Linked DNA regions of Homo sapiens: region 2 is linked to region 1. The links come from fine-mapping of genetic effects on plasma protein levels. A gene starts in region 1. The other region holds a variant in brackets. All regions are shown on one strand. Distances are between the middles of the regions.

Region 1 (2,909 bases):
TCGCACAGTGGCCTGGGCAACAGAGTGAGAAACCCTGTCTCAAAAAAAAGTCTGAGAAGTTGGAAGTTGTAGGGGATTTTGCAGATGAAAGACCATGAGTTTCAGAGACTCACTGTGTTCAAGGAGTCCATATTCACACACTTCAACGTGCCTGTGGATTTTCAGAAAGGATGTAAAACAAACTGTCAACAGCCAGAATGACCAGGCCTCTTCGAGGCCAGAGTCGATGAAATTTAAGACCTGACTCCAGCCTGTGAGTGCGAGAGAAGGAATGACTCTTACACCCTAGTAAGGGGATGCCCATAGCGGGTAGGGAGTCTTCACAGATGCACCCACAGACCCCCTACACTGAGGTCTATGACTCCATGAATTTGGCTGTGTTTTCATTTTTGATAAGCCCCTTTCCACTGCTAGGCCTCAGTTTCCATATATGTGAAGTGAGGAATGCGGACTGTGTTTTCTCTTGGCCTCCTTCCAGCTCTGACAGTCTGTGAATCTCCTGGAAGCCAGCTCTGGGTCCAGTCCTGTCTTGGGGAAATTAGACCAGAAAGGCACAGAGCATACACAAGAACCCAACAGCATCTTCTGACACAAGACCATACTCCCACTGGCACATAGTATCTTTGCTTACCTAATTATATGCATGGACACACAAACACACACATGTACACACCAGGCAAGAAAACTCACAACCGGGTCAGGCGCAGTGGCTTGCGCCTGTAACCACAGCACTTTGGGAGGCCGAGGCGGGTGGATCACCTGAGGTCAGGAGTTCGAGACCAGCCTGGCCAACCTGGTGAAACCCTGTCTCTACTAAAAATACAGAAATAGGCTCGGCGTGGTGGCACACACCTGTAATCCCAGCTACTCAGGAGGCTGAGGCAGGAGAATCACTTGAACCCCGGAGATGGAGGTTGCAGTGAGCCAAGATCACACCACTGCACTCCGGCCTGGGCAACAGAGTGAGACTTTGTCTCGAAAAAACAAAAGAAAACCTGCAACCATTGACACATGCAGCCACCCACACCCTTTCTTGTGGTCACCTCACCGTACTCGGCACCATCACGTCCTAAACACAGTGTCCCATAATCATCATCTCACAAAATCTCAGTCCCAGACTTCTGCCTACCTTGAGCAGATGGGGCAACTGCTGGGTAACCAGCTCTTTGAACTCGTTGACGCTGAGGCTATCCTTCCGGCCCTCCTGCCTTGCAAAGGTGAAGAAGGTGGTGACCACGGTCTCAATGGACTCCTCTAGCTCTGTCAGTGGTTCTGCTGCCATTAGGACCCTGAGGCCAAAGCTGATGTCCTCAAGGGGCTAGCTGACCTTTGTCAGGGCTGACCTGTGGAAGAGAGAAGGAGCAGAGAGGGAGAGTCAGGGAGCCCCAAGATGCAGGAATGGTTCAGAAGGTCCCTGCCTTGGTGTTATCACATCAGTCTCAGCCTGGAGGGGGCATATGGGGAAAGAGGGAGAGGACAGGGGTTGAGCTTGGGGCAGCAGACCAGGCAACGGCATCTCAGTTTTGGTGGGGGCAGGAGATTCAGCTCCAGAAACCCCCTCTTCTGTAGGTCTCACAATCCGGGATCCTTTTTAAATGTCTGTGGCTTAGGGACCCCTCTGTGGTGATCCCTCGATCTGGAGACCCCTCTACTTGAGAGGAGGTCTTCAGTTGAAGGTCCTTCTTGGAGTCCTTCAAGTCTGGTGGCCCCTCTGTGGCGTGTCTGTCTCAAGAATCCCTTCTTGTCTCACCCAGACTCACAGGTCATAAGGTTGTTTGTCTCCAAAGCTTGTTTATGTTGGGCCCTGGTCTCCGGCCACTCGCATCCGCCCACACACACTCTAACCGCTCCTCCCAGCAGAGAAGCACAGGGTCTGGCAAATGTCCCCTGTGGTCAGAGCTGGCTCCGTCTGAACAGACCCATTTTCTCTGCCCCGCTCCACCCTTACCTCTCCTCAGCGGCAGCAGGGCAGAGTGCTGAACCCAGGACCCCACAGATCCTCCCCGCTCCTGTCTCCCGGTGACAAGGGTCCTGGAACGGGGCGTCTCTGACTCCCTGCTCCAGGACGGGTTTAGTACAGGCACTCACAACCCCCTGGGGTGCGGCGGGTGGGGCTGGAAGAGGCATTCTCTTTTCTGTCCACCCCGTCACACACTCCTGCACGCGCTGTTGCTCGATCATCCAAAGCTCCTTCCTGAATTCCTGTCTGAGCTGGCTCTGGGGGAGGGACCTGGGAGCCCAGGAAGAAAAAATGATCTCCAGCCTCCCTCCAGGGTCAGCCATGAGACTCACCCGGCAAGGAGATGGGGTAGAGTGAGCTGGAGCCTCAGGGCTGAGGTTTATAAGCAGCGGGGAAGGAGGAGAGAGCTGCTTCCAAGCCCGGAGGTGTCAAATTTCCGTGGTCGATTCTGAAGACCAGAGACAGCCCAATCAGGCCGCTTGCCCTGAGCCCTCAGGTCTGGACCCGGGCTCCCTGCCAGCCACACGAGCGCCCCCACTTGGTCAGGGAGAGGAGCTGCCTGGACAGATCTCGTTCGGCAGGGGTCCCAGGGTCCTAGTCCTCTCAATACTGGGGGCTGCTGCCACCATACCCATGTCTAATCAGGAGTGTGTATGCTGAGGGGGGAAGAGGGAGGCAACCAATCAAGGGAGCTCAACACTGAGAGGCCCAATCTGAGACACACACAGAGGCCCCTTGGAATGAGATCCCACAAAGGATGCTACAGACCAAGATCCCTCAGAGAACCCCAGGCTGAGGCCCCACACACAGAGGGGGATCCAGGTTGAGACCCCCAGAGAAGAGTCCTGGATTGAAATCCCTCTGTGGGTTCTCAGACTCCCAAGACTAAGTTTCTCACTGAGGGTCCTCTCAGTGAGGCCCCATGGAGGAGCCACAGACTAAGACCCCC
Region 2 (2,909 bases), 190 kb before region 1:
GCTCCTTTCTACTCATGAGAGTGGTGCAGAGAGCAAGTGCCTATCTGGCCTCTGGCAAGGCCCCAGGCAAGGGTTCCAGTTTACACCCTGATCTAGGCTCACCAAGCTAGGTAGGTAGGATGCGTCCTCCCAGGTGTGTGAGCACAGGTGAATCTCAAAGCCCAACAACCAAAAAAGAAGAGTGACCAAATCAGGATTCAGGACACTGTGGGGAGCACTCTGGAAGCAGACATTTGCTGGGGAGCATTTCTGTACCTAGTGGAGCATCTACAAAGCAGTTAACCAACAACTTCCTGTTCTGTCTAAGATACACACGGCCAAGGAAAAGGAGGAAGTATCTTGTGGGAGTAGATGCTTTATTGTCCATGGGGGTCTCCAGAGGCCCCTGGGTAGGGTGGGATCACTGGCTTCCCCCGGAACAGGGTGCCACTCCATGCATTATCTTGTGGTGGTCTATGGTTATATCCCCCAGCAAGGAAAGAAACTCAGAATAATTAACCTTCTTATCCTTATTATCATCTTTTTTCTCAAGGGCATTGGACAAGTAATCCATGTCGCTTTTTTCCTGCATGGAGAGAAACACGCAAGAAAGAAAAATGATATTTGAATTGGAAAAAGAGGAAAGAGGTATCCTGTGGTGTGAACATGACAAGTGGGTAAGTGGGACAGGAGTGGGTGGAAGAGAGAGAGCAGCATTGCTGGGTTGTTCCTGAGGAGTTCTCCATTGAGTGACTCCATGAGGAAAACACAGAGATTGGTGTCAGGCTCCGCCAGGAACCACACTGGTAAGGAGTGAGGGGCCTTCATTGGCCACAGACCCACAGACCCACCCACCTACCCACCTGTACAGGCGCTGTCTCCTTTCTCCCCAGGGGCCCAGCACAGGCTGACCGCCTTCCTTCTCTTACATGTTGACTCTTCTCCCATTCCATTTCTTTCCCATTCAAACTGTTAAGTGCCAGGTTCCCTTTCTTTAGGACCCAGTGCTCTATTCTCTCTTGTTATATTTTACTAATAAGAGTGATGCATTCTAACAGTGAAATAAAACCCAGTATATGAATAAGCTCTGCCAAATATAAAGGGTGGTGCTCATGTTATCAATATTCTGATTTCCATTGAGTTCCATCTTGACAAGCCTCCACTTGAACCTAGAGGAGTGACTCTCACAGAGGGACAAGGTTACGTTGGGCAGAAGAAACAAATGGCCAGAGCGTGTGTGTAACCTCTCCAGGTAACGTGGCAGGGGGCCCAGTGGCAGGACAGGAGCCCAGCATGTCTGATTCTCAGTTCCAGTCTCCATCTCTTGAATGGTTAGTCTCTCCACGGGGCTGGTCCTGCCTAAGGCTGGGACAGATGGATCAGTGAGGCATACCAGGCTCAGAATTACCCAATAAAAATAGTGAATTCAGCTCCCAGAGATGAGTCCTCAGACATGTCACAATGCACAGGA[C/T]CTGTCCAAGAATCACTACTCCATTGCCCCGCACAAATATAAAAGCTCTCCCAGCCAAGGGCGGGCAGAGTCCCCACTCACACAGCCACTGAGGAAGTTGGGGAAGTTCTCCTTCATCAAGTTCACCAGACCTGGCATGTCCATCCTACCATCATCTCCACTGTATTGGCGAAACATCGCGACTATGTCCAACATGACTTTCTCACCTAGAGGGATATTCATCTTTGCTTTCAAAAAGCCTTCAGGAAATAAAAACAATGATTGTTTTCCTTCTCTAGTGAATGACTGATATTAAGAAGATGAGAAGGGATTGAGGAGCAAATGAGGACGAGGCTAAGGTGGACCAGAGAAACCTGTGTTTCTCTGTGTGGTGGGATAAATTGCTTCCAAAGAGGAGGGTAGAGCCATACCTGGGATCTGGGCTCACACAGGCCGGGGAGCAACAGGAGAAGAGGAGACAAGCAGAAGCCCAGCTATGGGCCGTGCTTGTGAGAGGGAGAAGTAGGGAGAGATAGAGGCCAACAACACGTGGAAGAACTAAACCCTGAGCAGGGACCCCCAGCCACAGTCAGCACATGGCAGACTCCACTCCTCAAACAGCACCAAATCCATCTCCTCCAGCTTCACAGCCAGGGTGAGAGTCACAGGGGCAGGACAACGGCCTTGGTGATCTGGTGTCTGACCCTCCTGGGCTGCTTCAAGAACCAGACACCGTGGGCCCCACCTTGACTCAAGTGCAAGCCCTGCATGACACGGTGCATGCAGGCTCCAGGTGCACATATGAGCGTGGACATGAGTGTTAGCAGGAAACACAGCCCTGTCCCGAACACAGGGGGCCCTTCCTAGACCCTCACAGGAATGTGAAAGAGGCACGGGTGACCATAGCTAGCCTCTGTTAAAAAGAACAGAAATAACTCTCTGGTTCTTAAGCTGCTGGATGGGGTGGGAATGAGGTGGGGGTCCCTTCATGTCTGCTCTTGGGAATTATCTGCACCCTTTAAATCACCAAGGCTGGATGTTATTTAAATAAAAAGTTCTGATTTCCCAAAGCAGATCCTCCAGCCAATACTCAGTCTGGGCTGGCCTGCACCCCAAGCCTGAAAAATAGGACAGTGCAGTTCCCACTTCCCACACTTTCCAAAGAACCAGAAAATGACATTTGCTCATGCCTGTGGGCATCTGACAATAAACCCCTATCACCTCCCAAAGCAGGAGAAAGCTCTGTGCTGGCAACTCACTAAAAGGAGCCATCTAAAGCCTTTTTGAGTCTGAGGCCAAGGCCAGGGGCTGAGCCCTGTGCCCAGAGGGTGACTGAGAGTTTGCAGGTTGTAGTAGGGAGTGAGGGAGCTTTGGTTGCTCAATACCTTACCCAGGTAGGGGCAGATCATCTCACCAGGGCTATGCTGTGTGGAGGTCCCAGGCCTGGGGGTTCAGCAAGCCTCCAAAGTATTCTTAGGGG

Which allele goes with the higher level. Alleles are on the strand shown, and positions count from the first base shown. The strength of an association depends on the size of the effect and on how common the allele is.
As copies of T replace C in region 2, the plasma level of the protein whose gene starts at base 2,315 in region 1 goes up (moderate association).

What was found. PIP is the chance, under the fine-mapping model, that this variant and not a neighbour inherited with it causes the effect. The UK Biobank Pharma Proteomics Project read protein levels with antibody pairs (Olink). The fine-mapping took linkage between variants from a reference panel, not from the people measured, so its PIPs are less certain.
Region 2: its variant is fine-mapped to the plasma level of the S100A13 protein (UK Biobank, PIP above 0.99).

The regions. Positions count from the first base shown.
Region 1 is chr1:153,625,191-153,628,099 of GRCh38, forward strand. S100A13 (S100 calcium binding protein A13) reads right to left here and starts at 2,315. Exons shown (of 3, transcript NM_001024211.2): 1 at 2,293-2,315; 2 at 1,130-1,343. The coding sequence starts at 1,282. RefSeq lists an enhancer at 1,737-2,562.
Region 2 is chr1:153,436,658-153,439,566 of GRCh38, forward strand. It overlaps the pseudogene S100A7L2. Among named protein-coding and RNA genes, the nearest start is that of S100A7A, 22 kb to the left of the region's middle. The variant C/T (reference allele first, on the strand shown) is at 1,451.